Regions from separate parts of the Homo sapiens genome. Here region 2 is linked to region 1. The links come from fine-mapping of genetic effects on gene expression. A gene starts in region 1. The other region holds a variant in brackets. All regions are shown on one strand. Distances are from middle to middle. Region 1 holds the start of HGFAC (HGF activator). Region 2 has its middle 7.0 kb from the start of RGS12.

Region 1 (4,374 bases):
CGTGGCTTCCTGGAAGCCTGACACCCACACTGTCAGGCAGCAGACCCCTCCCATGTGTCCCAGGACCCATGTGAGCAGGGCGGCTGGCACCGCACCCCACAGACCCTGCCCACCTGTCCCCTGCCTGGGGCACGCCTGTGTGGCTGCAGGGCCCGGCCTCACCACCAGGCGGCGCCTTGGCCCCAGCGATGGCCGCGCAGCCACCATGAGACGCAGGTCCCACCTGGGAGAGGCTCTGGCCCTAAGTGGCACCCACCGGGGTTAATCCCAGAGCTCCTCTTCTGCTCCCCTCCAGCCAGGACCCCTGCCCGGGTCCGCCCCATCCTCCCCTTGGCCCTTCTGGCCTGGCCCAGTGCCCCCTGCCCGCCCCAGGCTACCCAACCCAGCACCCACCTGGGCCCCCTGGAGGCGGGGTGGCCTCCACACAGTAGCCCCAGGCCCTGTCCCGGTCGTAGTTGTGAGTTGTGGCACACCTGGGGGGCGACACCTGCGTGCATGGGGGTCCCAGGCAGAGGCCCCCCACCCCACCCCACCACCCTGGAGGGTCTCTGGGTTCACTGGGTCCGCCTGCTGCGTGGTGAGCGCCTACTGTGTGCCCGGCTCCCAGAAAAGCAGGCAGCGTGGGGCAGGTGACCCCAGCTCGGGTGCCCCGGCTGCCCGGACCCACCACTTCCTGTGTGCACTGCCCTCCGAAGTGCAGGCATGCAGCATGCGGCCCCCGTAGCGGAAGGGGAACCTGCAGGGCCTCCCGTCCTCGGTGAGTGCTGTGGGGAGGGGGTGGCAGGGTCAGGGCTCCCTCGAGGGGCACCCGAGCCCCTCAGGACCTCCAGCCGCAGCCATGCTCCTCCCACCCAGCCCTAAGGTGAAGCACGACACCTCCTCCCAGGCCCACCTGACCCACCTTGGGCCTGGGGGCTACTGCTCGAGGGAACTGCCCTGGGCGGGGGCGGGAGCCCCCCACTTTGGGGTCCCTCTGCCTCTGGAGCACTTGTTGCTGGGGTCTCAGAGGTCACAGAGGTCACCAGGATAGTGGGGATCGCAGGGGTCGCTGTGGCATTAGGTTCTGGGGACTCCGTACGGTTCTAGGAGGAGCAGAAAGGGTGTCAGTGTGGGACAGACCCTCACACTCAGGTCCTGCCGGGCAGGAGGTCACAGCCCTGAGCCTGTTTCCATACTGGGGCCCCCAGATCTCGGAGCAGGTTCCAGGAGGACACACGACATTCCTGAGGCCTCAGCCAGGCCCTGACACCTTCCCCGCCCTCGGCCCCTAGTTAACACCTGCTCAGGGTCACTGCCCAGGCCCAGGCACTGCTACCCACCAAGCTTAAACCCTGACGTCAGTTTTTGGTGATGGGAGCAGCTAGGAGGCCCTGGGAGGTTCCCCCAACCTCACGCATCCAGACCCAACAGAGGTCCAGAGAGAGGGGGCAGCCCCCAGACCCATAGGGGCCCAGGCCAGGCCGCACAGGGATGACAGCCCCCAGGTGGGGCTCCGTGAGCCCAGGCCCCAGCCTCCAAGGCCAGTCCAGCACCCACCTGCCCTGTGAGGGCCAGCTTTCAACGTAAGCCCCCTGCTCGGACCCCCGCCCCCTCAAATCCCCACGCTCTGTGGCGACCCTCCCTCTGGCCTCCTCCCAAGGACCCCAAGTAGCCACTGGGAACCTCTGGTCGCACTGCGACAAGGTCAGTGCTCACCCCGCCAGGCTGGGGCTGGAACCCCCGTGGCAGCAGCAGCAGCAGCAGGAGGAGGAGGAGGAAGGGGCCCAGCCCCGGTGGGGGCCAGGGGCTGGGGACCCAGGCCCAGCGCCCCATGGCTCCTGAGCTGGCCTGAGGGGCAGTGGGAGGCGGGAGCAGAGCGGCCAAGGCAGGTGGGGTCAAGGCTTCGTGGAAATGATTAACCCTGGCTGCCTCCCACGTCAGGCGGGCCCAGCCGGAGAGGAAGTCCCCGAGTCCCCTGGCCCCCACACCTGCTGCCCACCTCACTTTGACCCTACCTGGAAGCCCAGCTGTCTCTCTGGCCTCGGCCTGCACTGGTCCTAGTCCTAGACCTGACATGGTCCTTGGGCCTCAGCTTAGAAGCCTCCTCCAGGAAGTCTTCCAGGATAATGCAGATAGGTTGGGGCCTAGATGGTCTGGCGCCGCTCCCAGTCCCTGCAGGCCACAGAGCTGGCCACCATCTGCCTGTGAATTGTCCATGATGAGAGCCACTACGGGCGCTGGGCCTTGGAGGTGTCCAGCTCTGTGCCCAGCACAGCACAGACAGTAGCAGTGGGGATGGGATTGTCCCTGTCCCACAGACGGCAGCACTGGGGGCTCCTGGAGGGTTCGGTGCTGCATCCTCTCGGTGGCCCCAGGGCTGGCCAAAAGGCCAGGCACAGGGAGGAGAGGGGCCACGCAATGGCTGAGTGTAGCATAGGATGACCTGAGATCCTGCCCCACCTGCCTGTTCTGACTCTGGGGGTGGCCAGGGCCCCCCAGCAGCCCCTGGTGATGTTCAGAGTGTCCCTTCCTCCCCGTCTCCCAGACAGACCCAGGAGTCCACTCCAAGAAGCCTTTCCAACCCCAGCTCCCCACCGCCGCCTGGATGGTACAGGCCAAGTCTGCGGCAGCACAACCCTGGGCCAGGTACCCTGGGGCCTGGGATGGAGCTGGAGTCACGGAATTCGTGACTTGGGGCTGTGGGCAGAGCTGCCTGAGGAACCTCTTCTGCAATATTGGAGCAGCCGCTACGGCACCTCGGGTTCCTCCTGAGTCAGCAGCGACATCCCAGGGCTGCCGAGGTGGGAGGAGGGGTGAGTGAACCACTGTGGCCTGGAGACCAGCGAGGGCTGAAGCTGCCTCCCTGTATCCCCTAAAACCCCTCTCTCTGCCCCCCATTTGCCTGTCTGTGCAGAGGGAGAGAGAATGGACACCCACTGACCACCCAGCTTGACACCGTGGGCCCCAGGGGGCACAGTGCACATGGAGGCGTGGTGGGCCCTGGGGGCACGGTGAATGGGGGGTTGGGGGTTGGGGGGGAGGTCATGGTGGGCCCTGGGGCACGGTGAATGGGGGGTTGGGGGTTGGGGGGGAGGTCATGGTGGGCCCTGGGGGCACGGTGAATGTGGAGGCATGGTGGGTGCTGGGGGCACGGTGAATGGGGGGTTGGGGGTTGGGGGGGAGGTCATGGTGGGCCCTGGGGGCACGGTGAATGTGGAGGCATGGTGGGTGCTGGGAGCAGGATGGATGCGGGCTTGTGGTGGGTGGTACACACAGCTGGCACTGGGCTTCATCTTCCATTCCGACCCCTCCCCCAGCCCCCTTCCTAGAGCACCACTAAGTGGGGTGCATCCACTCCCTGGAAGCTTCTAGAACAGCCCCAGGGGACTGGCTGTGCTCTCGGGCCTCTAGGATGGTCTGAGGAGCTCACCAACCACCCTGTACCGAGGGTACTTGGCTTTAGGGGTTCCATCAAGGCAACCTGGGGAATGGCCCTGCCTCTTCCGACTCAACCCAGCCCCCAAGGCCCCGGCCTCCCCTGCAGCCACACCTGGTTCCCTTTCTGTAATCAGACCCTCCTTAGCCCCAGGGCCTTGGCACAGGCCCAGGGCTCTTTCTAGACTTCCTCTGCCGTCCAGTTGCAGTTTACATGGTCCCTCCCCAGAAAGGCCCTCAGACCACCCTGCTAAACAAGGCTGGGGCAGGGTCCCCACGTGACGGCGAGAGCCAGTCTCTGCCATCTGGTCCTGGCCCTCAGGCCCCAGGAGCCAAGCTTCCCTCTCCTCAAAGCCCCCTTGACCTTACCCTGGGGCACTTCTCCTCCTCAGGCCCCTCTGTTTCCTGCATGACCTCCTGGGGATGTGCTCGGAGTCCCCGAGAACGAGGAGTCTGTGTCCCCAGCACCCAGCACCAGGCCGACGCTTGGGTCCTCAGAAATGCTTTATTGGGCAGCAGGAGGCCAGGGCCAGGGAGCCCCATGGCCAGCATGGCGAATGTCCGGGGCCAGTGCCTCCAGCGAGGTCACCCCCTGCCCTCCTGGCTGGGCTCCTGAGGGTGTGGTGGCCAGGGTGGCCCCCCTGAGGCCCACAGAATCCACCTGGGCTGCCCCACCCCGACATGTCCACAGGAGAGTTGGCCAGGCCAGGGCAGCTCAGACGAAGGTGGCGTGGTGAGCGCTGGTCTTGGGCTTAGCAGGCTCACCCGGGACGGGGCCCAAGCCAGGGAGGTCTGATGTAGGAGGCCCACCACTGGCCTGCGACCTCCCAGGGCCAGCCTGTGCCCCCGCTATGCCACCATCCCGCCCGGGCGCCGAGCCAGTTACAAGATCCACATCGATGATTCTGTTGACTGGGAGGTCTCGGCTGCCATGGGTCCCACTTCCTGTCACAAGGAGAA
Region 2 (4,374 bases), 160 kb after region 1:
ACCCGCCGGGCCCATCACTCTTGGGGGTCTGCGCACACTCCCCATGCGGCAGTAGTTTATCTGCCATCGAATCCTTGTGTGCGCTCAGAGCAACGAGCACGCAGGCTCAGGGAGCTCAGGGCCAGCAGGTACGGGCCCACGGTGTCTCTCGACGGCTCGGCCATGGGAGGGGGAGGACCCAGAGGGACTCTGGCGCTGACGCTGGGAAGCAGGGCAGGGATGGAGCGAAGGGGCTGGCGTGCCCCCAAACAGAGCTAAGGGGACAGGTTTGTGTGGGGCCCGGTGAGTTTGGGGGAGATGTGGGAGCTGAGGGCCCCCACCCAGGCCCCGTGGGACAAATGAGCCTGCCAGCCCCTTGCCTGCACTCTGCCACATCTGAAATGCTCTGTCCCGGGACTACCTTCCAGGTGGGGCAGCCTCCTGTGCCCGTGTTGTGGAATTCACCATCAGTGAGCAGATGAAATAAATTAAATGAAGCATAATGTTTTTAACCAGAATACACAAAGTTAATTAAATAGAGCATATTGTTACTAAGTAGAGCTCATGGCAATTAGGGACGTTGTCACCAAATAAAATATGCATTAATTAAGTAGACCATATTATTCCTACACAGAACTTCCTCGGGCCGCCAGGGCCAGGGGCTGGGGAGGTCCCAAAGGCCAGCGGGCAGGGGCAGGTTCAGGAATCAGGAAGGGCTTGGCCACGTGTGTGGCGTGAACCCCTCCTGTGGGACCCGGCTTTGAAATGTCTCTTCTTGTCAAAGAACCGAAGCTTGGCAGCAACAGAGCTGCTCCAGCTGGAGGAATACCAATTTGGAGAAGATGTCCTTTTTTTGTTTTTTTTTTCAGACCATGTGATGTGCCTTGAGAAAATGTATGTTTAGGAGGGTGTTTTCCTTTACAGAAAATAAACGTGAAATAAATCAGAAAGCATCGCCTCAAAACAAGAAAATGACATCGGAAATGTTTTAAATGTTGCTCTTCGAGTCCACCTTGAACAATCACGCAAACGCCGCCCTCCCGGGGCTCTGCACAGCGTCGGGGCCTGGGCGCTGCTCGCTCTTCCGCTGTTCAGTGAGCAGGTAGCGCTCAGAGCTCACCTTTTCCCGGAGGATTATAAAAGAACTAGGTGCCCCTTTTTCTCTGTCTTCCTCAGTAACTCCCTAATATATGCCCAAAGCTGATGCTGGCCCCAACCCATTCACCCATCAAGTCCCAGATCACCATCATAGCCAGGTCCCCGAGGCCTCCCCAGCCCGAGGGAGCTCCCGGCCTGGGCGGAATTCCACTCAATCCTGCCGGAGCAGCGTCGGCTCCCGCAGGCACTGCTGACCGGGCTCCCATTCGGTGCCTAGCAGCGCACTAAGGGCCTGACGGGGGCTCTCTGACCCTCTCACAACCCTGCACATGCCCGTTTACAGATGCAGAAACTGAGGCCTGGGGAGACAAAGTGCTGGGAACACGTTCCCGCTGAGCCTTTCCCCGGTGTGCAGCGCTGGCCCCGCCTGGCTGCCACAGGCTGCCTTTCCTGCCCCTGACCCTCATTCCTCCTCACTCCCTCGCCCTGCATCCACCTGCGGGAGGGAGGAGAGCAAACCCCACACCGCAGCCCCCAGCACAGGCTTCCACCCCAGGAGGCCGGGGGAGCAGGGCCCACAGGGGCTGGCTTTAAACCAAGAATGGAGCTTGGATTAATATCTCAGGGTTAGGGTAATGGATTTGGACTGACTCTGAATTGAGACTGTATTTGCCAGTTGAGTGACAGAAGCTGCTTTTTATGTAGGAGCACACAGAAAATCCCCAGGCAGCCAGGAGCTTTCAGGGCCGGAGGAGGTTTGCCCACCGCATACGCAGTAATGGGGAACAGAAACCGGGCAGGCTGCATTTGGTGATCTCAGGAGAAAGGCTTCCTCAGTGTGTCGAAAGAAACCACACGCGGCCTGGGGCAGAAGACCTGCCCTTAGGGTGGCCGAGTGGCCTCTCCTGGCTCTAAGCATCAAAGGTCCTGCACCCCTGGAACCTCCTCGGTCCTAGGCAAAACAGACAGTTGGTGACCCTCCCTGTGGTGGCCTCACGAATAACCAGAAGGACATGCCAGGCTGGACGGAGGCACTGCCTTGCTCACCTCAGGCATCTGGGCTCCTCTCCACGTTCCCTGGGCTCCGTTCTTTTGGTGACGGCCCCAGCGGTCCCTGGAGCGCAGCCCGGCACACCGGCAGGAAGTGGTGAAGCCGTGGCTCCCTCCATCTGGGCTGGTGTTTGCAGGACATTTTCCTCACGGCGAAGCTGAGGGGTGACAAAGGAGTCTACGGAGCCCTGCCCCAGGCGCGGGCGCTCCCCAGGGCATGAGAACCCAGAGTCCCGCCCATGCACAACTCCTGTGCCAGGACACAGCCTGGTGGCTCTGACCAGCCAGTCGACAGAAGTCTGCTCTGGAAGGGGACTGGGGTGGGGGCAGAGGGGATGAG[G/C]AGGAGCCGGGAGGCACCACCTCGAGCTCACCCCCAACGGTGACAGTGGGGCTGGGGCTTGTTCCGGGGCGGGGCAGCCCGCCGGACCCAGCCCGAGAGGTTAAGCGCGCGGCTCGGGTCCTGGAGGCCACCACGTGGCCTGCGTCCTTGGGCCCTGGGAGCTTCCAGGGCTGAGGAGGCCACGGACACAGGACTTACAGGACAAAGGGAGGTGTAGCAGAGCGCTGGGCACCAGTCCCCCTTCCTTCCAGGCCCCCGTGCTCCCAGAGGCCCAGCCACGCCACCCTGGCACACCCTTTGTCCCTCACATTGCTCTGGTCACTTCAGTCATGACCCCCAAAACAGGCCTCTGCTGGAGCCGTAGCACTTGCTATGAATAGAGAGCGGGAGCTGAAGGAATGGTTTCCGCACGCTGCCTGAGCGGCCGCCTCGGTCTCCCCTTACTGCAGCCAGCCCGCAGGTCCGGATTCCCTGCCTCTGCTGTCCCACCATCCAGACAAGACCCACCAGCTGGGCCACCTGTCAAGTCCTCAGTGGGGGCCACTTTTCTGCAAATGCCCCAAGAATGCTATGGGGCTCTCCGTATCAGTGCTGTCCAGAGAAACAGAATCCAGTAGGGTGTGCAGATAGACAGAGATGCAGAAAGAGAGGAAGGGGAGAGACTGATTTTAAGAAATTGATGCATGGGCTGGTGGGGGCCGGCAGGTCTGCATTCTACAGGGAGGCGCTGGCTGGCTGGAGACCTGGGGAGGAGCTGCCGCCGCCCCTCAAGTCCAGAGCACCGTGCTGGCAGCCTTCCCTCCTCCTTGGGAGCCTTTTTCCTCTCAAGCCCTTCAACTGCTCAGATGAGGCCCACCCACACCGTGGAAGGTCATTGGCCTCACGTGCAGTTCCCTGACTTAAATGTTAACCTTATCTAAAAAATACCTTCACGGTGACATCTAGACTGGCATTCGACCAAACACTGAGCACCGTGGCCTGGCTGCTACCTCTGCCTCCCACTGGATAGTCCTTTTTTTTTTTTTTTTTTTTTTTTGAGATAGGGTCTTGCCCTGTTGCCCAGGCTAGAGTGTAGCAGTGGGATCACAGCTCACTGCAGCCTCAACTTCCCAGACTCAAGCCATCCTCCTACCTCAGCCTCCTGAGTGTTGAGATTACAGGCATGCACCACCGTGCCGGCCCTCACTGAATGCTTTTTTTTTTTTTTTTTAGATGGAGTTTCGCTCTGTTGCCCAGCCTGCAGTGTAGTGGCGTAATCTCGGCTCACCGCAACCTCTGCCTCCCAGGTTCAAGTGATTCTCCTGCCTCAGCCTCCCAAATAGCTGGGACTACAGGCACCTGCCACCATGCTCGGCTAATTTTTGTGATTTTCAGTAGAGAGGGGTTTCACCATGTTGGCCAGGCTGATCTTGAACTCCTAGCCTCAGCCTCCCAAAGCGCTGGGATTACAGGCATGAGCCATGCGCCCCGCCGGATGTTTCTTAATGTCGCCCAGCGGGGCGGTGGGGTAGTTTAGGGAGCAGCTGAGCAGCCAGCACACACAGATTCACCCCCACACCCGCCCTTCAGCCCTCCCCTCCAGGGCATCCTGCTGGCGCTTCCCATTGGCCAGGGTGAGCTGGGCTTCAGCCAGCCCAGCAGATTGCTCATGCCGCCCCTGGGGCTCAAGCCAACAACCCAATTCCCAAACCCAGGTGGATGCCATCAGCCAGTGCAGTCCCGTACGGCTTCCTGCTTAGCCTGGCACTCCTGGAACCCCATTCCACCTGTGTCCCCAAACGCCTGCTCCTACAGATTGTTGACCTTGGCCCAGAGCAACCTTTCGCCTCTCTGTCCAGATTACGCTGGGATGCAGCAAATCCCAACGGGCAGGGGGTGGGAGGTGAAGTCTTTGAAAACAAGGGAAG

The links. PIP is the estimated chance that this variant, and not a neighbour inherited with it, causes the effect.
Region 2: its variant is the best candidate, but not a certain one, in a credible set for the expression of HGFAC in cerebellum (GTEx, PIP 0.57).

What each region holds. Positions count from the first base shown.
Region 1 is chr4:3,439,440-3,443,813 of GRCh38, reverse strand. It overlaps HGFAC (HGF activator), which reads right to left and starts at 1,846. Exons shown (of 14, transcript NM_001528.4): 1 at 1,696-1,846; 2 at 902-1,082; 3 at 668-764; 4 at 394-473. The coding sequence starts at 1,812. RGS12 (regulator of G protein signaling 12) reads right to left here. Exons shown (of 18, transcript NM_001394154.1): 18 at 3,901-4,359. The coding sequence ends at 4,130. RefSeq lists a silencer at 267-316.
Region 2 is chr4:3,283,826-3,288,199 of GRCh38, reverse strand. It overlaps a transcript of RGS12 not described here. Among named protein-coding and RNA genes, the nearest start is that of RGS12, 7.0 kb to the left of the region's middle. The variant G/C (reference allele first, on the strand shown) is at 2,468.